Linked DNA regions of Homo sapiens. The protein of the gene in region 7 interacts with the protein of the main gene of each other region in a pairwise test. Each region holds a gene or a part of one and is shown on either strand. Other genes may lie near its edges. The genes, in order: HDAC4, ZNF35, CWF19L2, CAMSAP3, SPATC1L, PPP1R18 and FSD2.

Region 1 (4,291 bases), on a different chromosome or scaffold from region 7:
CTGCCTCCGCAGACTCCGCGTGCAGCAGCGCCCCAGGCTCCGGACCCAGCTCACCCAACAACAGCTCCGGGAGCGTCAGCGCGGAGAACGGTATCGCGCCCGCCGTCCCCAGCATCCCGGCGGAGGTCAGTGCGAAGCGTTTGTCCTGTGTCCTACGGCTAGAGTCGGACTCGGGACGGATGAGCTTGAAATGACCCCACTTTGCACTTGCCCTTCACTCTTCACCTTCCAATTTGGGGTGAGGGAAAGTGGCCTGTGAGCCATCCTAAAAAGGACGCAGTTGGAGGTTACTCTCCTGCCTTCCTCTCATCACAGACATCTCCTTTCATTATGAACACGCTAGTTCCAGGCACGTCGGGGACAGCCCTGAGCCTGGTCCTTTCTCCTGACCTCTTCCAGAGCAGATGTCACTAGATGGTGTCCCAGCACAAGCCCACGCATGGCAGGTGCTCTAGGTGGACAGGATCCCTGCTGCCCAGCTCGCTGTGGTCGCCAGTGCTCTGAGGGTGGCTGAGAGGCCGTGGGCACGTGGGTATAGTTGCTAAGTGAGACTTAACATTTTTTATTTTGTATTGAGAAATACACAACACGATGTCGGCCAACAAACTATGTGTCAGGGCCGACTGGAGCGTCACCCGTGGTCAGCATGGCAGGGCCGGCCAAAGCCACAGAGCGGGGAACTTTTCCAGGCATCACGGGAACCAGGCATCTCAGACCGCAGAGCTCAGCACCCCTGGTCCCCTGCCTTCATCAGACCCCAAGTGGTGCCACAGTCTGGGAGGGACATTGGCAAGCTAGAGAGGAGTCAGGGGACGCTTGGAGTCCCTAGGTGGGAAAGATGTCAGAGACGCAGGAGCTGAGTGGCAAGGCAGGGAGGAGTGGCGCCCAGGCTGGCCGAGTCGCACACTGACCATACTCGGAGGCTTTCCAGGGCAGCAGGTCCGAGGACCTCGCTCCGTGTTCCTTGAGCTCCTTTGCGCCCCCTGCCTTTATCCCACACGTGTCCCGAGCGCCTTGTGCCAGGCCCAGGGACAGAACCAGGCAGGCAGCAAGGACCTGCCCCACACTCCACACAATGCCCCACTGACAAGGAGAGGCCACCCCCAGAGCACGGGGAAGAAGAGAGAGGCAGAGAGAGGCAGTCCCGCAGGCTGAGTGGTGCCCTGGGCCTGGGTGGGCCTGACTGCAGGGCAGGGGTGGGAGGGGTACGCTTTAGCAGTGAGTTTTCTGATGAGTTGAGCTGGAAATGCTGTGTCTGCTTCATGGGGCAGAGTTCTACTGAGTGGGAGGTTCTTTCTGAATTCTCTCCAACTTACAGAAGGCTATAATTTATTAAATATAGTTATTGACTTTCCTTCTTAAATATTTAGAAATGAATCCTGCCCTTCCAAAGGATTGGCAAATCTTAGCTGGGATACAGAGGCATGAGTGTTTAGCATTTTCATTTCAAATTTCAAGACCGTTTATGTATAAACATTTTTAGAGACTAGAATTACTGCTCAGAACGAATTTTGCCCTTTGTCTCCAGGCTGCTTAATCCCCAATTTCTCTTACTCTTTCTACTTCATACATCGATTTCTTTTATTACCTGTCTTCTTCAGCCTGCCAACTTCAGTACTTATTTAGATGATTAGAAGTTTTAACAGTCCTCTGTATGGCTGTGGTCATAGCTGAGGTCTACCAGTAATAAGCCTTATAATGCAACCTAGAAATTACTTCCTGCCCTGAGGTTAACACTGGTTGCATCTTGTTGATTGTGGTCCTAGATACATGTTTTTATTTAAAATGAGGCACTTATGTACATGGTAGTTAATATTGGAACAGTGCCTTGTTTGGGTGGGTCTGCATCATTCCAGTTCTGTGTTAATTTTTAGAAATCACGATACGTAAATGAAGCTACTGGAAATTAATAGAACATGTAGAAGGAGTTACAGGAAATACCAAGAGGTGCCATTGTTCATGTTCCACATCAGATGTTCATTAGAGTGGGCACGGGCAGCCTTTGCATGTTGGATCACACCCAGGCGCCCTTTCTGGGTTTCAGTATCTCTAGAGTTGGACGGGTCTGTGAGAACACCTGTGCTTCATGGCCAGGGGCTGGCTCTCCGTTCTCACGTGGTGCAGAGTGTAGTGAGCTTGCCCGTCAGAGGGGGTGTCTCGAGTGGATGAGGATGTGGGGGGAGCAGGGGCCTCCCAGCCTGGCTCTCAGCACTGCCTTTTCTGTTCACCCTGGGGTCCCTAGAAACACTACTGTACCTTGAAGGCCCCCTGGACCCAGGGAAGCCCAGTGTGCCGGGCACCTCCTCCTCTACAGTGCCAGGGAGGCCCAGAGTGCCGGCACCTCCTCCTCTACAGGCCAGGGAAGCCCAGTGTGCCGGCACCTCCTCTACAGGGAGGAGGCAGGGCTCAGAGAGTGAGAGGAAGTCGCCCAGGTGCGTAAGGGGACAGCTCCTCTGTGGCCGCTGCTGCTGTTATTTACACGCGTGCCTGGATGCTCTGACCTCAGGCCCGCGGACTTTCCCTCTGAGCACATGCTGAGATGCGGTCCGGGGGCGCCAGCCTCAGAATGCCTCCCGCAGGGCTCGGCCCCGAGGCAGCAGATGCCAGAACGCCCTGCGATTTCTCAGGTGGACCAGTCGGCATCTCCAAGGAACAAATTCTCAGAAGCCTCCTTTAGTTCCAGAAATGGGCTTAAAAAAAACCTTGCTTACAAAGGAAATGAAAACTTTGCAAACATTAGAACGTCTCCTTATTTTGTTCCCAAATGATAACACAAGCATTTCCTCTACAGCATAACTTACTGATAATTCTTTAACTTTTGACAAAAAAAAAATTGCCTAGGAAAAATGTTTTCCTCAGTAGCCCTTTAATCATTCCTTACACAATGTAATATGTGAGCAAATCTAAAGGGAGTTGCAGGGTTTCCTCTGGGGCGAGGTGCGCCGTGAGTTTGCTCCTAAGTGAGAAGGCCGGGCTTTCTGTTCTGTAGGAACAGCCTGAGTGTAAGTGTTTGTCAGGAGAAGCGTTTCTTCCTATCCCCAATGGCCAGTCATATGTCTTTGGGGAAATGTCTCTTCAGATCCTTGGCCCACTTTTATACTGGCTGCTTCAGGTTTTGCTGGTGAGTTGCTGGAGTTCCCGCATGTTCTGGATACTGCTCCCTTGTCGGATGAATGGCTTGCACATGTTTCCCCTTCCCACAGGTCGTCTCTTCACTCTGGTGATTCTCTTCCTTTGCTGTGCAGAAGCTTTTTAGTTGAGCAGAGTCCCAGTTGCCTGTTTTCGTTTTTGTTGCCTGTGCTTTTGAGGTCTTAGCCATGGATCTTTCACAATAGCCAAGAGGTCGAATCAACCTCAGTGTCCTTCAGTGGATGAATAGACAGAGAAAATGTGGTGCTGTACACAGTGGAATACCATGCAGCCATCAAAAAGGATAGAACCCTGACATTTGCAGCAACATAGATGGAACTAGAGGCCCTCATGTTAAGTGAACTAAGCCAGGCACAGAAAGACAAACATGGCATTTTCTCATTCATCTGGGGGAGCTAAAAACGTTGCTGTCATGGAGGTAGAGAGTATAATGAAATCTGTTATCTATTCATTATTAACGTTAGCTTCTGGCAAGGGGATTTCTATCTGCCAAACCCCACTAACTAGCATGATTACAACAACATTTTATTCCTTCTCTTTGTTTGCCCATTCATTCAGCAGACATTCCTTGAGTAGCTACTGTGTAGGGGATATAGTGGTGATAAACTATTGTCCTTTTTAGCAAAACACGTTCATTCTACAAGCAAAAAGATGTTAAATATCACAGTAGTTCAAGTCCTTGGAGACTGTTGCTGCTGACTCTTCCTGTGTGGCCTTCTAATCTTTACTCCTGGCTTGTGTTTGCTTTATCCAAGCCCATTCTTTAAAAGGTACATGATCTATAACCTGTTTTTCTAACTTAATGTATCATAAACAAGTGTCCAAGTAATCAGCTAGATCGTTCCCAACCCCCAGAGCATCCCGGTGTGCAATGCCCCTCCGTTCTGTTAACACCAAGGTGTCGGGGAAGCCGCATAGCTCTGCCATGCCTGCTGGGTGCTCGGCCCTGCAGCGGAGGCTTCATGGGCATCAGGCCATCTCCTTATTTCTTAACGTTACATCCCAAGAGTGGAGCTCCAGCATCAAAGGTTAGACAGATTTTGAAGGCCTTTGACATAGATTGCCAAATTGTCCTGCAGAAAGGGTGCCACTAACTGATTTGTGATTCACCCAACAGTGTTCGCCGTTCCTCTAGGCCAAG
Region 2 (4,872 bases), on a different chromosome or scaffold from region 7:
GGGAAAAAATATTTGCAAATCATATCCAACAAGGGATTTGTATGTAAACTACATAAAGAACTTTCCAAATTTAACAGTAATAAGTAAATACAATTAGAAAATAAGCAAAAGACAGACATTTCACTGAAGTATAGATAGCAAATAAGCAAATGAAAAGATGTTCAACATCATTAGGCATGAGGGAAATGCAGAGTAAAATCGTGAGATATCACCTATCAGAATAGCTTAACTTTTTTTTTTTAATGGTGGTAACTGCTGGCAAGGATGAAGAGAAACAGGATCTCATACATTGCTGGGAATGTAAAATGGTACAGCCACTCTGGAATATAATTTGGCAGTTTCTTGTAAAACCACACATGTATATGTCATGCTTCAGGAATTGCACTTCTGAGCATTTATCCCAGAGAAATGAAAACTTGCGTTCACACAAAAACCTGTATACGAATGTTCATAGCAGCTTTATTTGTAATGGTCGAAACCTGTAGGCAACCCATATATCCTTCCTTAGGTGGTTAAAACAAATTGTGGTTTATGTATTACCATGGAATACTTGTTACTCTGCAATAAAATTGACTTATTGATATCCATAACAACTCAAATAAATTTCAAGGGAATTAATGCTGAGTGAAAATAATCACAAAAGGCCATATTCTGTATGAAAATATTCATATAACATTCTCAAAATGATAAAACTATAGAGATGAAAAATGGATTAATGGTTGCCAAAGGTTAGGGATGGTGGGAGGAAAAATGGGGAGAGGGTTGGATGGAACTATTAAAAGGTAGCACCAGAAAGGTCTTTGTGGTGATGGAACACTTGTGTATCTTGATTGCAGTGGTGGTTACACAAATCTATAGGTGCTATACCTATACACACATACTGTACCAATGTTGATTTCCTTTTTCATTTTATGTAAGATGTAACCATGAGGGGAAAGTGGGTGAAGGGTGCTATCTTTGCAACTTCCTGTGATTCTATCATTTCAAAATAAAAAGTAAAAACCAACAATGGCAACGAAAACCCAAAACTAAAGAGCTGTAACCAACTAAAGTGTGTGAAACTGATTTGAAAAAAAGTTATAAAATACATGTTTTAGGACAGTTGGGAAATTTGAATATGACTGGTTATTAGATGGTATTAGGGAATTTTTGTTGATTTTCTTACCTGTGACGGTGGTGGTAGTTTGAAGAATATTCTTAATCTTAAGGGATGCATGTTGAAGTATTTGGAATGAAGTGTTCTGATGTTTACAACTTTCAAAAAAATGATTTTAAATATGTATTGAGAGATCAGGCAAACATAGCAAAATGTTCATTGTTGAGTCCACATGGAAAATACGGGTATTCAATGTGCCATACTTTCAACTCTTCTGTACTCTGATATTTTCAAAATAAAACATTTGAGGGGAAATTATCAGGGCTTTCTACAGATTAATGCTGTGTAGCTTCAGGCTCTTGGGTGCGCGCCTCGCCTGAGTGTCTCATCCCTGCTTGGGATGCGCCCCTCCCTGAGGCTCACTTAGAGCTTCCAACAGCACAATCCTCCTAAGCGCTTCTGCCCCATCCCTGGTCTGGGGCGACATTGGACACCCATCGAGAGGAAAGCACCTCCGAGGTTCCTAGAGAGGCCGGCTTGGCGACTTGGGGAGCCGGAAGCCCATCCCGAGGCACTTCCTGTCCGGTCATTGTTCTCGTGCCGGTAGAAGCTGAAGTACCGGTCAGCCAGCCTCCTGCTGCAGAGCCAGTGAACTCAGGTCGGGCTTCTCAGCTGCGCACAGTGAGTGGGGTCGGAGGGGGTGGGCACGAACGTCGAGGGAGAAAAAGGGGCTCTCCCAGGGGCCATGGCCCTAGGAGCGGCCCCTGCGTCCTTTCCCCGGGGACACCAGCCTTGTCTGTCGGGGTGCGGGGGGCAGTGAGTTCCCCACCGCCTCGGAATCCCGGCTGCTGCCCACCTGGGGCCTGGTCCGGGAGAGGATGCACACGGACCGGCCAAGGGGCCAGATAGGTCCCAGGGACAGGGCCGCGAGGAGCCTATACGTGGAAAGAATGGATTGCCACGTTTGGAAATAGAGAAAGGACGTTGAAAGGGAGCCTTTGATAGAGGGCCCTGTGCCGTCTGGGACCGGAGGTCCGTCAGAATCTGATCAGAAGTCTGATGAGAGTACTCACTGTAGGCAGTCTTATACACAAGGTGGAACTAGTCTTAAGGACCTTCATACCAGATTGAATTCGGATAGTGATGGAAAGAATAGTCCTCCAGAATTAAGGTTTGTCACAGGAATGAAAGTATTGCATTACTTAATAAATTCAGTGTATACAGTAAGTGGCCAGTAAGTTGACATGGGGAAAAGAGTATGATCACTTCAATAGCAGCAACAGGGGATTGAATAAGATTTCGCACCCTTTTCCAATAAAACATTCAAAGGGGGTTAGAAAGAAAAATTTCAATCTCTTCATAAGCAATCAAACTAGTAAGGTTATTTTGCTCACAGGTTAAAAACAAAAACCCTGCTGGCTTAGCTGTGATAAAGGGTTACTGTCAATTAGTGGGGGTGTGAATTGGCATGGTGCTTTTGGAAAGCAATTTGACAGTACATATCAACCAGCAAATCCTTGAACCAGTAATTCTCTGATTATTCTAAAGGAATAATTCAGCAAAAAAAAAATATTTACAAAGAAAAACTTTTAAATATTAATAAAATGGAAATATAAACTTTTACTAAATAAATGGTTCATAAATAGAATATGATTAAGTAAATGATAATATAGCCACAATTTAGAATACTATGCCAGAATGAGGTAGTTCTATATGTGTTGTATTGAAAGATTGTTAAGACTATTGTGAAATACGGAAATTGAGTTAAAAAACAATGCAGGTTGCTGAACAGTATATAACTGTGATGATCTAAAGTATGTTTTTGAAAAATAAGCAATATGTGTGAAGGTGAACATATAAGTATGTAAATGCAGAGAAAATGGGTTAGGACTCCCATCTAAACTGATAAGTACTTTGTGTGTGTGTGTGTGTGTGTGTGTAGTGTGTGTAGGTTATATATTTAATTCTATATATTTCTGTATTACTTGATCCTTTTTCAATGAGAGTGAAGATTTATCAACACCATAGGTTATTGTGTAGCATTTAAAATAAGCATGAAGAATGGCAACATGAAAGTAATCTTTTTTTAAATCTTAAGTGTAATATTTTATCTCACAGGACATTTGGAAGCTATGGAAAATGTAAAAATCAAACAAAAAAAATGAAAAGAACCTTAAAACTACCTGTAATTACACCATCCAGAGTTAACTACCCACTGCTAACACGTTGGTATAAAGACTCCCAGTCTTTTTCTTGGGATCCTTTTGTTCACATTATTTTGTATCCTTGGCAATAAAAAATCTTTTTGTTGTAAAATCCTTTTTTAAAAAATGCTATGATGATAATTGTGAAAATATGTATCCCCAAAGTCAAAAACAAGAATTTGTAAAATCATAATTATTAGTAGTATGGTTGGAGATTTTCCTTTGAAAGAAATATCTTAAATCTTAAAATGTATAGTGGTTATCTCTTTGGAGGTAGACCGAGATGATTTTTCTTAATCATTTGCTGCTTTTAAGTTTTTACAATAAAAGTAAGTTAACTTTTAATCAGGAAAAAATCAATAAACATTATATAAAGCTGTTTGCAATGTGGTTATTATGGGAAGATATTACATATTTATAGTCCAACCCCTTCATCCTATGAGGGAGGAATAGAGGATTCCATGTCCTACATTGGCCCCTGGCCAGGCGCTGGTGAAATTTGCCGGTGTGGCATCCGGCAAATTTGCTAAGTGGCATCCAGCAAATCTCTCCTTGGTGCTAACAGTGTTTTCTGATTTCTCAGTAGGCAGTACTCATCTTGGCCCTGGGAAGAAACTCAAGAAGAAGCTTTTGAAACATAAAGCTTGGATGGGGTTTGACCTCTGCAGGGCAGCGCCCAGCTATAGGAGTTCCCCTGCTGAGCAGAGAAGATGACTGCAGAATTGAGAGAAGCCATGGCCCTAGCCCCATGGGGCCCAGTGAAGGTGAAAAAGGAGGAGGAAGAAGAAGAAAACTTCCCAGGTCAGGCATCCAGCCAACAAGTGCACTCCGAGAACATCAAAGTCTGGGCCCCAGTGCAGGGTCTTCAGACAGGCCTTGATGGATCAGAAGAGGAAGAAAAGGTAAACGGGGGCCTGAGAGGAAGAGGGGAGGAGATACTTGAAGACCTCAAGTAGTTTAAGAGGGGACTCTGCCCCTCTGCTTCCACACCTGGAGTCTTATTTCTTGGGTACAATTCTAGCTTCCAGTCTTTTGTAATAGGATAGAAACATTCCCTTCTGATTGATGTGACATTCAGTACTTTCTGTAAACCAGTGGTTCTCAAATTTTGCTACACAGAACCTGGAGAGCTTTTTATAAAATCTTGATGTCCATACTGTATTCTATTCCTATTAAATCAGAATCCGTGGTCCAGGCACAGTGGCTCACACCTGTAATCCCAGCACTTTGGAGGCCAAGGCGGGAGGATCACTTGAGGTCAGGAGTTCAAGACCAGCCTGAGCAACATTGCACACCTCGTGTTTTGCAATGCCGAAATACAAAAAATTAGCTTGGCATGGTGGCACGTGCCTGTAGTCTCAGCTACTTGGGAGGCTGAGGTGGGAGGATTGATTGAGCCTTGGAGGCATAGGTTGCAGTGAGCCGAATTCATGCCACTGCACTCTAGCCTGGGCAATAGAGTGAGACCCTGCCTCAAAAAAAAAAAAAAAAGAATCTAAGGGTGGGACCTGGGTATCCATGTTTTTTTAAAACTCTTCAGGTAATTTCAGTCAGGTTTTGACAATGCTAACC
Region 3 (4,291 bases), on a different chromosome or scaffold from region 7:
TCACCACGTCCAGCTAATTGTTTGTATTTTTAGTGGAGATGGGGTTTCACCATGTTGGCCAGGATGGTCTGGATCTCCTGACCTCGTGATCTGCCTGCCTCAGCCTCCCAAAGTGCTGGGATTACAGGTGTGAGCCACTGCGCCTGGCCGACTGGCCTTTTCTTTTGCTGTGTCTAGCTTACTGTTATCCCTATCCAGTGACATTTTCATTTCAGGTACTGTATTTTTTTTTTATCATTAGATGTTTCGTTTGGATCTTTCTAATGTTTTTCAGTTTATCTCCTCATTATCTTTACATTTTCCCTTCCTTGAACATATTTATGATAGCTGTGTTAAAGTCTTGGTTTGCTGTTTCATTTTCTCTTGTTTTTTCCTGTTCTGTTTCAATTAAATGATTTTTCTCTTGAATATGGGTCACATTTGCTTGCTTCTTTGAATGTCTAGTAACTTTTAATTGGATGCTGAACCCTATGAAACTTATATTGTGACTGCTGGATTTTGTTGACTTCTTCAGAGAGTATTGAGTTTCCTTTTGGCATACAGTTAATTACTTGTGAATTAGCTTAATCCTTTTCAAGGATTGTTTTTAAGTTTTGTTCGTATGCACCTAGAATAGCTTTACTCTAGGACTGGTTTAGCCTTTCTACTAAGGCATGACCTTTGTGGGTTCTCTGCTGATTGTCATGGATGTTCAGCGAGGTTTCTTTATTCTGGTTGGGAGGAACTAGAATGTCTTCCAGCCCTTTGTGAGCTCTGGGGATTGTTCTGCTTACAGCTCTTTGGTAATTGTTTTCTCCATGGTAATTTTTCTTTGCCTGACCTTGTGGACTCTCATCCTCAGCATGTTCAGCTTGGTCTTTCTTTAAAGACTCCAGGGGTCCTTTAAGTAGATTTCTGGCACCCTTTCTCTGTGTAACTTCCCATCTGTACTTTTGTTTCAGCCTTCACAAAGTTCAAATTCCGTTTCCTTTGCTCAGTGAGATTTTCATGTTCTGCTTGGGTTACCCCTCTATGCCACAGTCTAGAAAGTGCCTTTAGATAAAAAGCTGTAGAGATTGTAGTTTCATTTTTATTCCAATTTGTATGTATTTCTAGTTTGATGCCATTTATTTTGTCAAGGACAGAAGCAGAAGTCCTCAAGATCCCTTGAGTTTTGCTGGTAGCACTTTTCTGTCTTAGTTCCACCTTCTAGGTTTTGACCACTAGATAGAATTAGAGGTGTGGTTAATTCTGCAGGCTGCACAAGAGAAGGAGAGCCCTGAAGGCTGTGTTAGGTCAGGAGGCGTATTAAGCTTGATAGTTAATGAGTTCAAGGTAAAATGGAGATTGAAACTAAAATTAGCAAGAGAACTGAAGTCGTAGCATGGGGAGCATCAATTTTGCTGAAGTGGTAAGGTGAGTGAGTGCATAATTGTGAAAATGAGTATAGGTTGCTGCTTAAAAGTTTCTGACTAGTGCTATTGAAAGAGTAGAAAAAGACATTTCATTTAATTTCAGCTTGCATTTATCAAATGCTTATTCTTTGCCAGACACTGTTCTAGACATGGGGAATATAAAAATATATTTTTAAACCTTTGGGGAACTCATTTCCTAATTGGATAAATAGATACATAATATTAATAATATGATTTTGTAGTAGATTTTGTAGAAGAAGATGTTGGCTTTATTTTCTGTTGTTACTGAGTTTAGCATACCATCCAACATGATGCCATGGTAGTACAGGGTATTAAGAGGGATTTCATTTGCTAACTTGTTGATTAAATGATGCTTGAATTGAGACTAGATAGATTAGTAAGCATTAGGCAAATAAAGGTGTGCTTGGCATTTCATGCATAAGGAATTGCGAGAGCAGAGACATGGAAGTATGAGATAATATGAGTGTGAGTATGTGTGTATGTATGTAAATATAACTATAAGCAATTTGATAGTACTAAATTATAAAACAAGAGGAGGGGGTGAATGGAGATGAAACTGTAAGAATTAATAGGGCCTTGTAAACCAAGAGCTTTGACTTTATTCAGTAGGGAATGTATCATCTAATTGGGTTCAGCTGCATTTATTAGAAAATCTCAGAATAGCCATTGATTATACAAGATAGAAATTCATTTTTTTCTGATATGAAATAAGTCAGGTAGACAGTCTAGGGCTAGTATGGTCTTCTGGGACCTAGGCTTCTATTGTCTTGCTTTTCCATCATCCTTACAGCATTGCCTCTTAGTCCAGATAACAGGAAAGAAGATGCTCTTTTTTTTCTTAACTTGACTTCCAGAAAGTCCCATAAAATACTTTTGTTTACATCTAATTGGACACTTGATCATAAGGCTTCACTTTCTAGCATGGGAAGTACATTACTTCTCCAAATAAAATGGGATTCTGTTGGTAGGAAAGAAGAGGGATAACTAGCAGTCTTTGTAATGGGAAGCCCTAGAAGAGAAGTACGGTGGTCAGATGTTCCCTTTATATTACTCTAAATGTATTTGGGGTGAGGGGTTGGAGAAAGAAGGGGAGCAGGAAAGATGAGTCCAGGAGATTAATTAGGTCTCCTGGAATCAGTTGTTTAGGTGAGAGATAAGATCTGATCTAGGGCTACTACTTTTTTTTTTTTTTTAAGGCGGAGTTTTGCTCTTGTCCCCCAGGCTGGAGTGCAATGGCACGATCTTGGCTCACCACAACCCCCGCCTCCCGGGTTCAAGATACTCTCCTTCCTCAGCCTCTCAAGTAGGTGGGAGTACAGGCATGCGCCACCACATCTGGCTAATTTTTGTATTTTTAGTAGAGATGGGGTTTCACCATCTTGGCCAGGCTGGTCTCGAACTCCTGACCTCATGATCCACCCGCCTCGGCCTCCCAAAGTGTTGGGATTACAGGCGTGAGCCACCGCGCCCAGCCTGGGGTGCTACTTTAAGGATCAAAGAAGAGAATATTAGTTGGTATTTTGGTTGCAGGTAACAGAAACTAAATATAAATTGGATTTTGCAAAAAGGATTTATTATTAAAGTACAAAATTCTCATAAGACATATAGATGTAGGAATGCAGCTAGGCTTCAAGAATAGCTGGAATTAGAATTGTGAATGGTTTTTGCAATTTTCTTGCCATTTTTCATTTCCCCTACCCTGAGTTCTAGTTTTTAAAAAATTTTTGCTGATTTCTATTTCTCATGACAGAAATGGCCTCTCCCAATGCCTTCCCATTTCTTAGTTTTAGATAAGCCCATTTAGACCTGATTTCAGATTCCTGTGGAATGGCTCAGGTTGATGTGAATTGGGTCAGGTACCTACGTTTGAACTAATCAGTAGTGGCCAGGGATAGAGGTAGGCTCGTATGGTAATCATGTATTCACTCTATGGTATATTTAATAAATATTTTAAAAATGAAAATGGTAGGCTTGAATATGTGAGGTAACATCATCCTGAGTTTCTGACTTGGTTTAAGTGGGTGGTTGGTTGTTCCAGATAACTCAGTTCAATACTATACAAGGAGAAGTAGATTTTGTAGAAGAAGAGGATAGCTTTATCTTCTGTTCTTACTGAGTTTAGCATGCCATCCAACTGCAGTAGACAATTAGTCAGTGAAACTTTGGTTAGACAAATTTGAAAGATATCAGCACAATTTATTGTAGTTCAGGCGATCAGAATGGATTTAATGGCCCAAAGGGAATGTTTAGACATTGAAAAATGTCATGGGCAAAGAATGGAATCCCAAATAACAAGATATTTAAGGGCTAAGCAAAGGAGGAAGAGTTCATGAAGGAAATGGAGAAGAAACAGAGTGGGAGGAGAGCTGAGAGGTGTCATGGAAGCCAGGAAAGTGAGTTATCAACAGAGTTGCATTAAGCAGAGAGGTCTAGAGAGCTGAAGACTGAAACGTTTTGTTGAGTTCGGCACAGTGGAAGCCACTGGTGAGTTTGGAGAAGTTTCAGTAGATTAATGGGGACAGTAGATGTATTGTAGAGTTTTGAGAAAATGTATGAAAGTGAGAGTGTGAAGGCGGTGCATGTAGACTACTCTTTCAAGAAGTTCATCTGAGAATGGAAGCCGGAAGATTAATTCCTGCTAGAGGAGGAATATACGGGGTCAAGGAAGGTCCCCCTTCCCTCCTTAAAAAAAAAAAAAAAAGGGTGGGAAATGCTTGAAATTGTTTCTAGGCCATTAGGGATCTTTGGTTAATGCCGTGAGAGGAGAAGATAATTGATGGAGCAAGGTCCTGGAGGAACAGAAAGAGTTATCAAAATCTTTAGAGCAAGATCTGCCTTAAATAGGAGGAGTTAACTGGAAATAAGGATAGGCACAG
Region 4 (4,291 bases), on a different chromosome or scaffold from region 7:
CCCATCAGGCTTGGCTCCTCCCCCAGGTTCCTCCCACCAGGCCTGGCTCCTCCCCTCAAGCGCTATTAAGCCTAGTTCCTCCCACGAGGTCTGGCTCCTCCCCTCAAGCGCTATCCATTAAGCCTAGCTCCTATCAGTCTTGGCTCCTTCCCTTAAGCTATGTCCATCAAACCTAGCTCCTCCTATCATCAGTCTTGGCTCTGTCCCTTAAGCTCTGTCCATCAAACCTAGCTCCTCCCACCAGTCCAGGCTCCTCCCCTCAAGCTCTGTTCATTAAGCCTAGCTCTTCCCCCCAGCCCTGGCTCCTCCCCTCAAGCTCTTCCCATCAAGCCTGGCCCCTCCCATCAAACCCAGCTCCCCAAAAAGGCGCTACTCTGGCCCTTGAGGATTTGTGTACACAGCCCACCCTATCCTAACGCCTAGCATCTGACCTCAAAGTCCCACCCATCGTGCGTGGCTTTTCCGGGACCCCATTTCTTGTTCCTTCCCTTAAGGCCCCACCCATGAACCACTGGCCCCGCCCCCTCAAGCCCCACCCCCCCCGTCAAGTCCCTCCCATCTGCAGGTTCTTCCTTTTCCCAGGCCCTTGGGGGCCGAGGTGCGCCTCCTGCAGCTCTCAGGTCTCACCCTCTAGCGCTTGCCCCCACAGGGAGCCCACCTAGCTGTCATTGATGCCCTCATGGCTGCCTTTGCCTTCGAGTGGACAAAGACCCTGCCAGGTCCCTTGGCCCTGACCAGCTTGGAGCACAAGCTGCTTTTCTGGGTGGACACGGTAGGTGGGGTTGGGCCTGGGGTGGGTTCGGGGACCAGCATCGTCCAGTGGCCAGACCACTGACCCCCTCCCTGCCCTCCAGACCGTCCGGCGGCTGCAGGAGAAGACCGAGCAGGAAGCGGCCCAGCGAGCCTCTCCAGCAGCCCCTGCAGACGGGGCGGCCCCGGCGCAGCCCTCGGTGAGGCCAGGGCATAGAACCGTCAGAAGGATGGGGGACCGGAGATCTGGGAGGGCAGGGCTGTGCTTCCTGGACACTCCTGAAGTGGGGAGGGGGCTAGAGGTGACACACTCTCTCTTTCTTCCCCCCTCTCTCAATCTCTCTGTGCCCTGCCCGTCCCCTGTGCCGGTACCCGCTGCCCTCCTCTCTGCCTCTCTGGCCTCAGTGCCCTACGCGCTGGTACTGGAAGCTGGTTCCTGTAAGTGGGGCTGTCTGTCCGCCCCGTCTGCCTGCCCTGCTTGTAGCTCTGTCTGTCTGTATGTCTGTTTCTGCCTGCCTGTCTGCGCGCCCTCTCATACCTCCCCAAGCTGTGAGCAAAGGAGGTTGGACCCCAGTCCTGGGAGACAGGGAGAACCCCTCTGTGAACCAAGAGAAGGGTAGAATCTCGGCCATTAACTGAGAGGGCAGACCCCTCCCCCAGCGAACTGATGGGTGGGGACGAACTTCCCCTCCCGTTATTCAGAAGGGCAAGCCCTCCCCGTTCCCATTAATGAAGAGGGTGGGACCCCCTGAACCTGTCCCCCTTAGCCGAGGTGGGGAGACCACATAAATTTCTGAAGGGGGGACCTGCAGCCCATCACAAACGTGGATCCTGACCCTAGCAGGCAGGGCACCCTCTGGCCAAGGGGAAGACCCTCCAATGCAGAAGAAGATAGAATAACTTTCCTAACTGAGACCCCCAGCTTCCCTAGAGAAAAATCCCAGCTTTGAAAAGGAGGAGGAGGCCCATCCCTGAAGCTGGAAGTTGAAATTTCTCTCTTCCCTGAATGAGCTGTGTGACCTTGCAGAAGTATCTAAACCTCTCTGTGCTTCATATAAATTACTCCCATAGTAGATAAACAAGGAGGAAGTGGGGGAGGTTTTGGGCTGGCTGGCGTCCCCACCTTTGCTCACTCCTTCCCCCACCCTGGGGCCTGGGTTGGGAGGTTCCCTTCCTGCCTACCCGCTTCCTCTGCATCCTCTCCCCAAGCTGGGGGCCTGGGTCTTTTGTGGGAGGAGGATTCCCCGCATAAGAGGGGGTTCCTACTCTGTGGGGTCCCTTGGGGCTGGGAGGAGCTGGGGTTCGCGAAGCCGGCCAGAGCAGTCAGGGAGCTGGACGGCCGGGGCTCAGGACCAGGGTCAGGGCTACCCCCTCCCCCCCAAGGTGGGCTTGGGGGCCCAGCAGGTCAGCACCCCTCCCCCTTGCTGATGGCTGCTCCTCTCCCCCCAGCACGCAATTGCCTTCTGTTTGAAGGAGTCGGGGAGCAAACCCCCCATGGTAATGTATCCCCCGCCCCGGGGTCCCAGGAGTCCCTGTCCCCAGCCCCCGCTGCTGGCCTGGCTGCTCGAAGACATCTCCTCTGCCTCTTGCTGCTGCCCCTCCCCTGCTCCAGGCTGGCCCCCCAACTCTGTCTCTGGGACCCCCAGCTTCCCGCCCCCTCATGGCGGAAACCCCAGGCCTCCCTGCCCAGCCTGCATGACCGCTGACCCTGGGGGCCAGCCTGGCCACTCACCTGACCTGGCTCCCATCTGCAGATCCGATACCGCAAGGACCGTGTGGTGGCGCGACGTGCCCCCTGCTTCCCGACGGTGACCAGCCTCCAGGACCTGGCCAGTGGGGCCGCGCTGGCCGCCACCATCCACTGCTATTGTCCCCAGCTGCTTCGACTTGAGGGTGAGTAAATGGATGTGGAACAGATCTTGTGCCGGGGAGCTGGGCATCCTAAGTCCCAGCCCCTAGACCCTCCATCCCCAGGTCCGCGAGACCAGCAACGATGCAGTGGTCATGAGGGCAGCTTCCGGAACTGGCAGGCCTGAGTTTGTGTCTCTCTCTTCCCCAATGAGCTTTGTGACCTCACACAAGTATATAAACCTCTCTGTGCTTCCAGGAGTTCATTCCTGCAGCAGATGAAACGTATGGAGTGTGGACTGTGTGCCAGACCTTGTTTTAGGCACTGGGGATCCAGCCAGAATAGAGACACACTCCCCACTTCACAGACGGCTCTAGCTGGGAGAGAAAGATACTAAGTTTATCCAAAAGTACTTTTTTTTTTTTTTTTTTGAGACGGGAGTCTTGCTCTGTTGCCCAGGCTGGAGTGTAATGGCATGATCTCGGCTCACTGCAACCTCCACCTCCCAGGTTCAAGCCATTCTCCTGCCTCAGCCTCCTGAGTAGCTGGGACTACAGCCACACGCCACCACGCCTGGCTAATTTTTGTATTTTTAGTAGAGACGGGTTTCACCGTGTTGGCCAGGCTGGTGTCGAATTCCTGACCTCAAGTGATCTGCCTACCTTGGCCTCCCTAAGTGCTGGGATTGCAAGTGTGAACCACTGCACCCGGCCCAGAAGTACTTTTTGCATACTGGGTAGTCCTAAAGGCAATGGGTGGTCAGAAAAAGCTTTTTTTAAAAAAACTCTTTTTTCTTTTTTATTAAAAAAAAAATTATAGGGCTGGGTGTGGTGGCTCACGCCTGTAATCCCAGCAGTTTGGGAGGCCGAGGCGGGTGGATCACGAGGTCACGAGTTCAAGACCAGCCTGGCCAGGATGGTGAAACCGTCTCTACTAAAAATACAGAAATTAGCCGGGTGCGGTGGCGGGCGCCTGTAATCCCAGCTACACAGGAGGCTGAGGCAGGAGAATCGCTTGAACCCAGGAAGTGGAGGTTGCAGTGAGTCAAGACCATGCCATTGCACTCTAGCCTGGGCAACAGAGCGAGACTCCATCTCAAAAAAAAAAAAAAAAAAGTATAAAATAGAGATGGGGTCTTGCTATGTTGCCCAAGCTGGTCTTGAATCCCTGGGCTCAAACATCCTCCCACCTCAGCCTCCCCAAGTGCTAAGATTACAGGTGTGAGCCACCACACCTGGCCCGGAAAAGCTTTTTGAGCTGAGGTCTTGGGGGAGAGTGTTCTAGAAAGATGCAAAGGCCTAAGGCAATAGTCACCAACTTTTTGGCTCCAGGGACCGGTTTTGTGGAAGACAATTTTTCCACAGATGGAGGCAGGGAGGTGGTCTTGGGATAATTCAAGCACGTTAATCTTTATTATGTACTTTATATCTAATACGTTGTAACATAGAATGAAATAATTCTACAACTCATCATCATGGGGAACCAGTGGGAGCCCTGAGCTTGTTCCTGCAACTAGACGGTCCCAGCTGGGGGTGATGAGAGACAGTGACAGATCATCAGGCATTCGATTTTCATAAGGAGGGTGCAACCTAGATCCCTCACACGCCAGGTTCACAATAGGGTTCGCGCTCCTGTAAGAATCGAATGCCGCCGCTGATCTGACGGAAGCGGGGTTCGGGTGGTCCTGCAAGT
Region 5 (4,291 bases), on a different chromosome or scaffold from region 7:
TAAAGAAATCTACAAGAAAAAAACAAACAACCCCATTAAAAAGTGGGCAAAGGACATGAACACTTTTCTAAAGACATACATACAGCCAACGAGCATATGAAAAAAGGCTCAACATCACTGCTTATTAAAGAAATGTAAATAAAAACCACAATGAGACACCATCTCACACCAGTCAGAATGGCTATAATTAACAAGTCAAAAAACAACAGATGCTGGCAACGTTGCAGAGAAAAAGAACGCCTATACACTGTTAGTGGGAGCATAAATTAGTTCAGCCATTGTGGAAGACAGTGTGGCGATTCCTCGAAGACCTAAAAACAGAAATACCATTCAACCCAGCAATTCCATTACTGGTTGGGTTCCATTAATGGTACCCAAAGGAATATAAATCATTTTATTATAGAGACACATGCACGCATATGTTCACTGCAGACTATTCACAATAGCAAAGACACGGAATCAACTTAAATGCCCATCAGTGGTAGATTGGATAAAGAAAATGTTGTACATAGACACCATGGAATATTATGCAGCCATAAAAAAGAAAGAGATCAGCCGGGAGCAGTGGCTCATGCCTGTAATCCCAGTACTTTGGGAGGCCAAGGCAGGTGGATTACCTGAGGTCAGGAGTTCGAGACCAGCCTGACCAACATGGTGAAAACCATCTCTACTAAAAATACAAAATTAGCTGGGCATGGTGGTGCATGCCTGTAATCCCAGCTACTTGGGAGGCTGAGGCAGGAGAATTGCTTGAAATCGGGAAGCGGAGGTTGCAGCGAGCCGAGATCGTGCCATTGCACTCCAGCCTGGGCAACAAGAGTGAAACTCCATCTCAAAAAAAAAAAAAAAAAAAAAAAACCAGAATGAGATCATATCCTTTGCATGAACATGGATGGAGCTGGAGGCTATTGTCCTCAGCAAACTAATGCAGGAACAGAAAACCAAATGCCACATGCTCTTACTTATAAGTGGGAGCTAAACAACGAGAACACGTGGACACATAGAGGGGAACAACAGACACTGAGACCTACCAGATGGTGAAGGGTGAGAGAAGGGAGAGGATCAGGAATAATAACGAATGTACTAGGCTTAATACTTGAGTGACAAAATAATCTGTACAACAAACTCCCATGACACAAGTTCACCTATGTAATAAGCCTGCACTTGTACCCCTGAACTTAAAAGTTTTTTAAAAAAGAAATACATGGCCAGGTGCAGTGGTTCATGCCTGTAATCCCAGCACTTTGGGAGGCCGAGGTGGGTGGATCACCTGAGATCAGGAGTCCAAGATCAGCCTAGCCAACATGGCAAAACCCCATCTCTACTAAAAATACAAAAAGTAGCCAGGCATGGTGGTGTGTGCCTTTAATTCCAGCTACTGGGGAGGGCAAGGCAGGAGAATCGCTTGAACCCAGGAGGCAGAGGTTGCAGTGAACCAAGATGACACCACTGCACTCCAGCCTGGGCAACAGAGCCAGACTGTGTCTCAAAAACAAACAAACAAAAAACCATTTACTCCTGCCTTCTGAATCAATGATTCTATTTTTTAAAAATAAATCCAGCTGGACAGTGGCTCAAGCCTGTAATCCCAATGGTTTGGGAGGCCAAGGTGGGAGAATTGCTTGAGCCCAGGAGTTTGGGACTGGCCTGGGCAACATAGGGAGACCCTGTCTCTACAAAAAAAAAAAAAAAATTTTTAACTAGCCGCTCATGGTGGCAAGCACTGTAGTCCAAGCTACTCAGGAGGCTGAGGTAGGAGGATTGCTTGAGCCCCAGAGGTCGAGGCTGCAGTGAGTCATGATCATTGCCACTGCACTCCAGCCTGGGGAACATAGACCCTGTCTGAAAAAGAAAAAAACATAATGGGCCAGGCACGGTGGCTCACACCTGTAATCCCAGCATTTTAGGAGGTCGAGACAGAAGGATCCCTTAAGCCCAGGAGTTCAAGACCAGCAACATAGAAGATCCCATCTCCATAAAAGTAAAAAAAATCACACACACACCAAAAAAAGAAATCCAATGGAAATAACCTTAAATATAAAAATTCTTAAAACCTTTTTTGTGGTGCTATTTACCTCAAGGGGAAGAAAAACTTTAATTTCAAACTGAGGGAGAATTCATTACATTGTGGTTCATCCGAATCGGCAATATTGCAGGGCCATTTTAAAGTACACCTAACAACACAGGGACAATCTTCTGTCATGTCAGACGGAAGGAGTGACCAGGAGTTGCACATAGAGAATTCTCACCACTGTTGGAAATCATCTGACAATCCACCACCAACAACTAGGGAGCGAGTGGGCAATCTGGGGGGGCCTGGCTGTCCTCCAGGGGACACCTCTCCAGTGGAGACACGGCGAGTGGCATCGTGGCCGTGCTGGAGGGACCAGGACAATCCCGAGGGAGACGAGATGGGGCAGCTGGGAGGGGAGGCAGAGGACTGCTGCTCCCACTGGCCCTTCGCGTCACTCACTTGTAAACCTGGGTGAGAAGACCTGGAGACCTCGCTCCCCAGCTGACGGGGACAGATGAGCCCTCCTGTGACGTGGGAACGATGCCGGCGCAGTGCCCTCCTCCTCCATCAGTGGGGTGTAGGGACCGTTCAGAGAGCGTTTGACAGTGTCTGTTTCAACATTTCAAATGCACACAGCCTTTGACCCGAGGACCCAGGTGTGGGATCCCCTACACAAAGCCACAGGGCGCCTGCGCAGGCCACCCACGGCGGCGGCGTCCACGGTCGCAGAGAACTGGGAACAGTGCTGCCTGCCTGGGGCCCCCACAGAAGGAGCCCAGTGTTCAAGTGTGCCGGGGAGATCTGCAGATAAGGACTGGTGGGGAATGCCGCGAAATGGATCGTTAAGGGGGAAAAGTCAAGTTGCGGAACAGCACAATCCCGTGTAGGTGGACCAAAAAGATACACAGACAGACACACAGATCTCCACTAAAGTTCCAGAGAAAACCCAAGAGAACGTTGATTGTGGCTGCCTTTGCGGAGGGGGCCGGAGGCGTGGCCTGAGGCTTAAACGTTGCACCCTCCATGGCGTTTATAAGTTTACCATGAGCACGTGTTGTTGAATCCGTAAGAAAAGCAGGTTTTTACTCATCCTGTTTTGAACACAGATGCTAATGAAGTCTTGGCAACATGCAGACATTGCTGGTGGTGGTTCCTTTGTTTATAAACTTCTCCTTTTTTGCAGAAGCTCAGTGCTGGTCTTCCCAACCCCAGTTCTGCTGAGGGCTGGTCCTGAATGCAGCGTCCCACAGCCCCAGGTACATTCCCAAGCACATGCTGAGGCCCAGAGCATTAAGGGTGCACCACACGCTGCCACTCAAGTGGCAGAGTTTAGAGGGTGGTCTTGTCCAGGCCCCTCCCCGCTGCCAGCCCGGGCCACACTGAGCCTGCCCCACACCCTGTGGCGGGGGCTCCAAGGCCCTCTGTGGAAGGCCTGCTGGCCTCAGGTTGAGGCTCCTCCCAAGACCCGTGTCCAGCAAGACCTGGGTTTGCCAAGATGACCCAAGGGCAGGGGCAGCAGCCGTGGTCATGGAGACCCCGCCCGGACTCAGCCCCTGACAAGGGTCCCTCTGGGGACTGCACAGCCTGGGCAAGGGTTGAGGGTCTGCCCCTCTCCTGCCAGGGGAGGCACCAGCACTCTGTCCAGCCCTGAGGTCCGGCCCAGGGTGATTCCTTCTTGAGGAGGAGGACAGCAACGCAGCCCGGGGCACGCAGCCTGCGGCGGTCCACACACGCCAAACAGATTAAGGGCCCTTTTGCAGCCACAGTGCCCGGGCCTCACAAGTGCTGTGAACGGGACCCTGCACGTGGCCCAGCACCGTAAGCGCAGGTCTGCCCAGCAAACGCCCTGTGGTGAGCGTGGGGCTCAGTGGCCGCTGATGGAGACGCAGAACCTGGGGCCTCGCACAGCATGGCCCCCAGGCGCCAGGTTCCCCAGCCACACTGTCCCCGCACATCCTGGCGAGGTGCTCTCCTCCCAGCTCCCTGCGAGGAGCCCCTGCCTGTCACCAGAGACCAAAGGTGTGGGGACGATGCCATGGATTCCCCTCTTTGCTTCCAGACACGCTCGCTCTCAGGCTTGTCCATGGAGCTCCGAGCAGGGCCTGGGGCCTGGCTGCGGAGAGTGCCTCCTGCACACTGCGCCTGCTCAGAGTGCACATCTGAGGGTGGTGGCCAGCGTTTGAGAAGGACTCAGGAAGCAACCTCCCCCACCCCCAGCACAGGTGCTGGAGCGGCCCCTTGGTGAGTGGCAGAGCTGGCCTCCCGGGCATGGCTCGT
Region 6 (4,814 bases), on a different chromosome or scaffold from region 7:
TTTCTACATATGGCATGCAGTCTGTCAGTGTCTCCCAAGCTACAGGGCTGAGTTTGGGAAAGAAAGCCAGAGGGAGCCTGGGAGCACCGAACTGGAGTCTGGGCAGCCACCACGCCCTCTGGCAACCGCTGGGGTTCGGCCACCCCCGCAGACCCGCCCCCACTTTGCCAGAGCGGCCGGGTCCCCATTCCCATTCCTTCAAATCCCCTTTTTCCCGGCAGCCGACCTGTAGACCCAAGGGAGACAGGTTGAAGCTAGAAAGAGTCGGGGCAGCAGCTCTGGTAGGGGAGGGAGCATCCAAAACCTCTGGCTTCTGAGCGCCTCTCCTGCCGCCCATCCACAAAGCCCCCCACAGCCTGGCGGCTGCCCTCGACCCCGCAAAACAAAGGACTTCAGAGGCTGGACCTACAGACCCAGATGAGAAGGCAAAAGCGTAGGGAGGAGCGGCAGGAGATGGGAAGGGCGGGCCCCGCTCGGAGCAGCTGCCGCTTCCTCCCAAAGTCCCACGAGGGGCCTGAGTCACGGGCCACCGCCCTGGGTCGGCGAGCTGGGGGAAGGGATCTGGACACCTGGCGTGTCCGGGCGGGAAGCTGGTGAGGGCCCCTGGGGACAGAGCGGAGGACCAGTGGTTGGGGCGAGAAGAGGGCAGTCCCGCAGCGAGTCCCACGCGGGGTGGGAGGGATCTAGGCCCCGCCCTCTCCTCGGCTCCGCCCTGCGCCCCCTTCCCTCTCCTCATTGTCCTTAGACAAAGCGGTCGCCGCCCCCGCCCGGCCCCCTGGTCTCTGTCTCCGTCCCTCCTCCTTTGCTGCCTCTTTCCCTCCTCCTCTCCCTCCCTCCTCCCCTCCCTCCAGTCTCCGGATCTCCCTCGGTCCCTCTCTCCTCCTCTTCCTCTCTCTGGACGCCCGGCTCCTCCGCACCCCCTCCCCCGGGGGTCCCGCGGCCTGTGAGTTGACTGAGGGGCTCAGACTTGGGGAGTGGGTGTCTCCTCGCCCCTGTCCTTGCTCCCGTCCCTGGCCCGGACCTTGGCTGTCTCCTCTTTGTGCCGAGATTGTCAGTCTGTGCGGCTACAGCGGGGTGGAGACGGCCGGCTCTGTCACGGCTTCATGAGAGCGGGGACGGGGCGCAGGACTTGCAGGCGCCGGGGAGAAGAGACATGGAGCCGGCCCTTGGCACTCTGGGGTCGCGTGGGGCAGTCGGTGGGGGAGGCAGGCGGTGGTGACAGGACAGGGTGGGGGTGGACGCCAGGGTTCTGGGAACGCGCTGGCAGCCCTGACGCCCGGGTTCCGAAAGTCTCGGGGGTGGCTATTTCCCCCGACCCGCCTCGGGGGCGGAGTGCGGGGCAGAGGGGTGGGGGCTGGGGAGAGGCGTGGCCCGAGCGGTGCTGGAAGCGGAGCCGGGACCTTTGGGGCCCGCGCTGAGACGCGCCCGGCTGCTGCCGCCGCCCTCCTTTCCCCTCTTCCCTGGTTTCCCTTCTCCTCTAGACCTGTTCGCTCTCCGCCCCTCCTTGCCTCCCCAACACCCCCTCAGGTCCCGTTGCCTCCTGGTCCTTTCAGGGATTCCTGGTCCTTCCTTCCCACACTAGCCTCCCTGGGGTATCGCTGAGGCAGCCTGGCCTGCACCCAGGTTCCCCTCACCCCTGCCACATTTCTCTCTTCTCCCTCACGCCAACTTTCCTTTTCGCCCTTCTCTCTCTTTCTCACATCCTAGAGACGGTCTTTAATACGCATTAACCCTGTGCTGCCACATCTGGCTCCTGCCCTCATTGCCTCCAATCCGGACTCTTCCTCTCACATCACCCCCACCACCCCCAACTTGGGCTCACAACTTCTCTTCACTTTTTCCATTTCCCCAGTTCTCTGCCTTCCGTCTTTCCCTCTGTCCTCATCCTTAGCCCCTCTGCCCTGCTTTGTGTCCCACCTCTCCCCCTCCACTTCCTCTCCTCCCACCCTCAGTCTCACCCCCGGGCTGTCTCACTCTCTGGAGCCTCTCCTTCCTGTTCTCTGTCCCCAGTGCTCCCTACCCTCACCTCAAGACGACCATGGCCACCATCCCAGACTGGAAGCTACAGCTGCTAGCCCGGCGCCGGCAGGAGGAGGCGTCCGTTCGAGGCCGAGAGAAAGCAGAACGGGAGCGCCTGTCCCAGATGCCAGCCTGGAAACGAGGGCTCCTGGAGCGCCGCCGGGCCAAGCTTGGGCTGTCCCCTGGGGAGCCTAGCCCTGTGCTAGGGACTGTAGAGGCTGGACCTCCAGACCCGGATGAGTCTGCGGTCCTTCTGGAGGCCATCGGGCCAGTGCACCAGAACCGATTCATCCGGCAGGAGCGGCAGCAGCAGCAGCAGCAACAACAACGGAGTGAAGAGCTGCTAGCAGAGAGAAAGCCTGGGCCTCTGGAGGCCCGGGAGCGGAGACCCAGCCCTGGGGAGATGCGGGATCAGAGCCCCAAGGGAAGAGAGTCAAGAGAAGAGAGACTAAGTCCGAGGGAGACCAGAGAGAGGAGGCTGGGGATAGGGGGAGCCCAAGAGTTGAGCCTGAGGCCTCTGGAGGCTCGGGACTGGAGGCAAAGCCCAGGAGAGGTGGGAGACAGGAGCTCCCGACTGTCAGAGGCATGGAAATGGAGGCTGAGTCCTGGAGAAACTCCAGAGCGGAGTCTGAGACTAGCAGAGTCTCGAGAGCAAAGCCCCAGGAGAAAAGAGGTGGAAAGTAGACTGAGCCCAGGGGAATCTGCCTACCAGAAGTTGGGCCTGACAGAGGCCCATAAATGGAGACCTGACTCCAGAGAGTCTCAGGAACAGAGTTTGGTACAACTGGAGGCAACAGAGTGGAGGCTGAGGTCAGGAGAAGAAAGACAAGACTACTCGGAAGAATGTGGGAGAAAAGAAGAGTGGCCAGTTCCAGGGGTAGCTCCAAAAGAGACTGCAGAGCTGTCCGAGACCCTGACAAGGGAGGCCCAAGGCAACAGTTCCGCAGGAGTGGAGGCAGCAGAGCAGAGGCCTGTGGAAGATGGCGAGAGGGGCATGAAGCCAACAGAAGGGTGGAAATGGACCCTGAACTCCGGGAAGGCTCGAGAATGGACACCCAGGGACATAGAGGCTCAAACTCAGAAACCAGAACCTCCAGAGTCAGCAGAGAAGCTTCTGGAATCTCCCGGTGTGGAGGCTGGAGAAGGGGAGGCTGAGAAGGAGGAGGCGGGGGCTCAGGGCAGGCCTCTGAGAGCCCTGCAGAACTGCTGCTCTGTGCCCTCCCCCCTCCCACCAGAGGACGCTGGGACTGGAGGCCTGAGACAGCAGGAAGAGGAAGCAGTGGAGCTCCAGCCCCCACCACCAGCCCCTCTGTCTCCCCCACCCCCAGCCCCAACTGCCCCCCAACCTCCTGGGGATCCCCTCATGAGCCGCCTGTTCTATGGGGTGAAGGCAGGGCCAGGGGTGGGGGCCCCCCGCCGCAGTGGACACACCTTCACCGTCAACCCCCGGCGGTCTGTGCCCCCTGCGACCCCAGCCACCCCAACCTCTCCAGCCACAGTTGATGCTGCAGTCCCGGGGGCTGGGAAGAAGCGGTACCCAACTGCCGAGGAGATCTTGGTTCTGGGGGGCTACCTCCGTCTCAGCCGCAGCTGCCTTGCCAAGGGGTCCCCCGAAAGACACCACAAACAGGTAGGGAAGCAGCCAAGCCAGACTTCTTAGAAGTCCACTTGTCAATTTTCTCTGGACTCTGGTCTCTTTCTTTTTTATACCCCTGTTTTCTTGTCTTCCTCTATTCTTTCTTGTTAATTCCTGCCACCACCCTTCCTCGCTCTGCACATACACCCTTCCTTCTCAGAGCCCTCCTTTTCCATTTTGAGCCCAAAAGATCCTGCCCCAGCAAAGGCTGTCTCTGGGTGTGTCTCTTTCAGGGTGTGCCAGGCTGCTCATTCTCCCTTCCCTTGGGCTCTGAGTTTCCAACCCCCTTTTCTTTCCTTCCTTTCCTGAGTGTGACCTGCCCCAGCCCATCCAGTGGGAGAGCCTAAAGTGACGAGCTTGAATCAGTGAGGGCAGGGTCACCAGGGTGAGAGCACTTGCAGTTTTTCTGGGGAGAAGGGATAGGGAGCCTGGGGTGGTGGAGGGGGTGGGGTGGGTTTGTGTTCTAGGGAGAAACTGCAGGGAGAAGTGAATGGAGAAAGGTCCAACTGCCCCGTGGGAAGGAGGGCAGAGCTGAATAGGGACATCCTAGGATGGAGGGGAGAGGGGAGATGGAACCGGGCCGGCCAAAGATCAGAGAGAAGGCTTTTGAACCCCGAGTCTGCCCCATGGGAGAGACACAGAGAGGCCATTTGAAGTGGGTGACCTCGGGGTTGCACACCCCCAGCTGGGCCACTGCTTCAGACAGTGCTCCCTTCTCTCTTGGGACAAGAAAAGCCTTCTCCTCTTCCAAAATACCCCCGCCCCTCACTCCCCTGTCCTTCCTCCCTGGGTTTCCCCTCCCTCCCAAGAACTGGCTCAGGGATCGGTTTTCCCCTCTTTTCCTGCCATCCTGGACTTTCCCTCCCCTTAGGGTAGCAAAAGAGAGAAGTGAATTTGGAGACAGTTTTGAGAACAGGCACTGGCCAGGGAGCACAGTGGGAGTTCTGGACAGGGGTTGGGGCTGAGGCCAGCAGAGGGTCAGAGGTTAGACTTGCAACAAAGACCTGCAGGAAAGTGGGGGCAGCCAGGATGACTCCCCCTGGCCCTGGCCTCACTTCTTCCCTGTGCACATCCATCTGTTTCCAGCTTGAAAATCTCTAGGGAGACAGAGGTCCCACACTCAGACATCTCAGACTTAGGAAGTCCCTCCAGTCACACA
Region 7 (3,895 bases):
GCACTCCAGCCTTGGCAACAAGAGCGCAACTCTGTCTCAAAAACAAACAAACAAACAAACAAAAAACCTCTGATGTTTTCCAGCACCTGCAAAGTCTGACAAACTGAAAGACTCTCATCTCCTACTAAACTCTGCCTACTCGTATAAATGGCAGCTCAGATTCCTGAATTAACAATTCACACTGACAATTTAATAACTCGTTATACACACACACACCTATCCTGCCAAGCTGGACTGTCTACTCTGAAACAAGGGACAGCAGATGTAAGCACAGAAATAGTTCCAGTTATAAACAATTAAAAGATACATATCATGTATATTTAAAAATGTTCTCGGCCGGGCGCGGTGGCTCACGCCTGTAATCCCAGCACTTTGGGGGGCCAAGGTGGATGGATCACAAGGTCAGGAGATCGAGACCATCCTGGCTAATACGGTGAAACCCCGTCTCTACTAAAAATACAAAAAAATTAGCCGGGACTGGTGGCGGGCGCCTGTAGTCCCAGCTACTCGGGAGGCTGAGGCAGGAGAATGGCGTGAACCCGGGAGGTGGAGCTTGCAGTGAGCCGAGATGGCTCACAGATCAAGACTCCATCTCAAAAAAAAAAAAAAAAAAAGTTCTCAGCTACTGAAATAGAAACTACCAAGTAAGAAACAGGATATCACAGAGAAGGCAAGTTTGAATTCAGGGTTCTAATAGGCTTTATGGAATACTACACGTTAGTATGAACACGGATAAATGGATTAAAAACTCAACACGTATAAAGTTTTAATTAAATTTTTATTTGACCAAGAAAAAACTGTCTAGAATTGCCTGACATTTAAAATCCACTTAAAGCAGATTAGCAACTTCAAGCATCACAATTATTCAGCATAAAGAGCCTTTGTTGAAACATCTTTCTCATTTATTTAGAAGAAAACATCTAGAACAGAACCAAGCAAAACTTTTGTATTTTTGTAAAAAATCTCAATTCCTGAAACTACTATAAACAATCTACTGAAACTGTATTCAGCAAGGGACAGATTTACCTCAAGGCCATGTTCACCTGCAACCTGCTGATAAGTCTGTTAAAAAACAAAGCAAAAAAAAGAGTTTTTAAAAATTAGACCACTGTAGCCACAATCCCTAACACTGGACAGTTAAAACAAAAGTTATCAAAATCTGTTCTTTTCTTAGCTTTACCTGTATCACTTTATAACTCCTGAGAAAGTCATTCACATAAGCTGTGGCCTCCCCACCTTAACAAAGGGGAAAAAGAATATGTAAAACCACCACAGAATCTTGGCGTAAACTAACATGGGTTTAGTAATACAGAGTACAGTATTCAGGATTTAAGGCACCCTTACAAGTCAGAATTGGAAAGTTGGTTTGAGACTTGCAATCTAAAATGACACTGATTTCTGATAAAATTAAATGACTTTTATTTAGAAAAGTGTGTTTAATAAATTACTTCCTGCTGGTTCAAATGACACACAATCACTTTGTATACATCCAATAAGATATTTCTGAAGTGTATACTTGGTCAAAAGTAAAAAGCAGAGCAAATGCATGGACAGTGGGGCCTTCTTCTTAATACTTCTCATCCTCCAAAATCTGTTAAAATCATCATCTTCCACAACTCACACACTGGAAGCTGTCCACAGCACAATTCACTGTGATGTGGCATTCTGTAAATAAGACTACATTGGTCTTGATGCAAGGCGGTTCAGCTACCAGACTGCACTATAAGAAAAGTCCTCTCCTCAACTTACCAAGAAAACTTCGCCAATTTCTAGTCACCTTCCTATCAATTAGTAGAGCAAGATTCTCACATGTTCACTATGTCTTTCTCCAGTTTTCTCATCTATAAGTGTACTACTCCTATTTTCTATAGGAAGACAATGGAAAGCGTGTAATTGCTGTTGGTAGATAAGTAGGTCTTGAATTTATTTTGCAAACAAGACCTGTTCTATCTACCTTTTCATTTAGGAGGCTAAAAGCAGAGTCAGCTTGATTTCAAGGACTCTATTTTCTTAGTCTCCAGAAGAACATAACCAAATCCAGCTTTTAAAACACTGTCCTTTAACAAGTCAAGATACTCAAATAAAGATCATGTATAACTTCAAGCTATAGGAGATTAACTCTGTACATATGCTTGTTTCACTGTAACCAATGGTTAATTAATCTAAATGCAAGAGAAAAGTTATTTGGAAAGAAGACCCCAGCTGGTCAGCATCTTTTCTGTCATCAGGAAGTCTCCTGGAAGGAGTATGACTATGACCTGGGCACAACAACTGCCCCTAAGTTAGTACTTATTTTAGAGTTGCTACTGAACAGGTGGTGGTTCTTGTCAAGTATATCATGTCTGACTACTTTACTGCTTGTTTTCTGCTATCACCAGTTCCAGAAAAAAAAAAAAAAAAAATTAAGCCCAACTCACTAATTGATTGCTTTTTCATTTTCCCAGACTGTGACAGAATCATGGTTTTTAGCTCTATTTTCACCTTACTCAAATCCTGGAGGAATTAAACTATCATTTATTTGAAATGTTACAAATTAGCCTGCAGTTGATTCAAACAACATGTAGTCACTCAGACATAGCAAATAAAAATGTTTTGGTATATGAACTTGGATTCTAATCTTGCTGTCTCTACTACTCTCATTCCTAAGTATAAATGTTAGGTCTCTTGCTTGAAAGGAATTTAAGAGATGCCCTTAAATTCAAACAGACTGGCTCGCAGAAAGGAATATAATCCATTCACTGGGAAAGTACACAGCCAACAAAACTGAGATTTCCCAACTATGCACTGTAACAATGCAGAAACACAGTTTTAGAGATGGCTTTACTGGGTATATACATCGCTCTTGGTAGACCCATCTATTATTCTGCCACCCAGAAAGATTCTTACCCTCCTACTTCCTTCCAAACATTCATTTAATTTAAAGGTGACAGGGACAGGGAGAGGGAAGGAAAAAACAAGAAGCACTATCCAAAAGTAAGAACAGTACTCTGGAGAAAGGTAAAAGATACTCAACACTGTTTTTTGTACCATTTACGATTTATAAATCAGCCACAGAGTCCTAGGCACCCAGAATGGACCTCCCCTTCCTTGTCTACCTAATGCCTGTATAGCTCCAAAATCACCTCTTGGAAACACTGCCTTATTCCTCCCCCTCCCAGGAGAGGTTAAGTGCCACACTCACCTCTTTTAGATTACTTCAGTGGCTATACTGCAATCATTGACTTGTGTCTGCTCCACTTGACTATAAGCAAATTGAAGGCAGGGTTTGTGCCTTCATAATCTCTGAATGATCTGAAGATGGAAATAACTGCTTTGTGCTTTCAGGGAGCTCATATACCTGCAAAGAGAAAAGAGACATCAAATTATCTTCCAAAATCAAAGGAAAAGCCTCTTTATTAGAAAGCAAAGCAGCTTTCAAATTTGTGTGTGCTTGGGGAGTAGAAGGAAACATTAAAAATATGAACCTGCTGGGCATGGTGGCTCACACCTGTAATCCCAACATTTTGGGAGGCCAAGACAGGCAGATCACCTGAGGTCAGGAGTTCGAGACCAGCCTAGCCAACATGATGAAACCCCGTCTCTACTAAAAATACAAAAATTAGCCGGGCATGGTGGTGGGCGCATGTAATCCCAGCTACTCAGGAGGCTGAGGCAGGAGAATTGCTTGAACCAGGGAGGCGGAGATTGTAGTGAGCCAAGATCACGCCATAGCACTCCAGCCTGGGCAACAAGAGTGAAAACTCCGTCTCAAAAAAAACAAACAACCCCAAAATATCAACCTTTCTTCTGTCCCAATACACCTTAAAGATCTGATACAGAGTCCCATTACTAATAGTGCTCCATGGTGACTTCTAATCTGGGAAGAGTGGGAGGGGACACAGAACAATCTGGGGAT

The links.
Region 1: the proteins of FSD2 (region 7) and HDAC4 interact in binary tests that used the Homo sapiens proteins (3 or more experiments, as listed by UniProt).
Region 2: the proteins of FSD2 (region 7) and ZNF35 interact in binary tests that used the Homo sapiens proteins (3 or more experiments, as listed by UniProt).
Region 3: the proteins of FSD2 (region 7) and CWF19L2 interact in binary tests that used the Homo sapiens proteins (3 or more experiments, as listed by UniProt).
Region 4: the proteins of FSD2 (region 7) and CAMSAP3 interact in binary tests that used the Homo sapiens proteins (3 or more experiments, as listed by UniProt).
Region 5: the proteins of FSD2 (region 7) and SPATC1L interact in binary tests that used the Homo sapiens proteins (3 or more experiments, as listed by UniProt).
Region 6: the proteins of FSD2 (region 7) and PPP1R18 interact in binary tests that used the Homo sapiens proteins (3 or more experiments, as listed by UniProt).

What each region holds. Positions count from the first base shown.
Region 1 is NC_000002.12:239,135,518-239,139,808, reverse strand, and holds part of HDAC4 (histone deacetylase 4), read left to right. Parts: intron 1-12; coding exon 13-125; intron 126-4,291. UniProt on the Homo sapiens protein: Responsible for the deacetylation of lysine residues on the N-terminal part of the core histones (H2A, H2B, H3 and H4).
Region 2 is NC_000003.12:44,647,058-44,651,929, forward strand, and holds the start of ZNF35 (zinc finger protein 35), read left to right. Parts: upstream 1-1,674; 5' UTR 1,675-1,777; intron 1,778-3,883; 5' UTR 3,884-4,010; coding exon 4,011-4,202; intron 4,203-4,872. UniProt on the Homo sapiens protein: May be involved in transcriptional regulation. Involved in cell differentiation and/or proliferation.
Region 3 is NC_000011.10:107,443,922-107,448,212, reverse strand, and holds part of CWF19L2 (CWF19-like protein 2), read left to right. Parts: intron 1-4,291.
Region 4 is NC_000019.10:7,605,622-7,609,912, forward strand, and holds part of CAMSAP3 (calmodulin-regulated spectrin-associated protein 3), read left to right. Parts: intron 1-649; coding exon 650-772; intron 773-854; coding exon 855-950; intron 951-1,155; coding exon of another isoform or gene 1,156-1,188; intron 1,189-2,199; coding exon of another isoform or gene 2,200-2,247; intron 2,248-2,504; coding exon 2,505-2,643; intron 2,644-4,291. UniProt on the Homo sapiens protein: Key microtubule-organizing protein that specifically binds the minus-end of non-centrosomal microtubules and regulates their dynamics and organization.
Region 5 is NC_000021.9:46,177,399-46,181,689, forward strand, and holds part of SPATC1L (speriolin-like protein), read right to left. Parts: intron 1-4,291.
Region 6 is NC_000006.12:30,683,243-30,688,056, reverse strand, and holds the start of PPP1R18 (phostensin), read left to right. Parts: upstream 1-1,411; 5' UTR 1,412-2,010; coding exon of another isoform or gene 2,011-2,038; coding exon 2,039-3,649; intron 3,650-4,814.
Region 7 is NC_000015.10:82,754,071-82,757,965, reverse strand, and holds the end of FSD2 (fibronectin type III and SPRY domain-containing protein 2), read left to right. Parts: 3' UTR 1-2,604; downstream 2,605-3,895.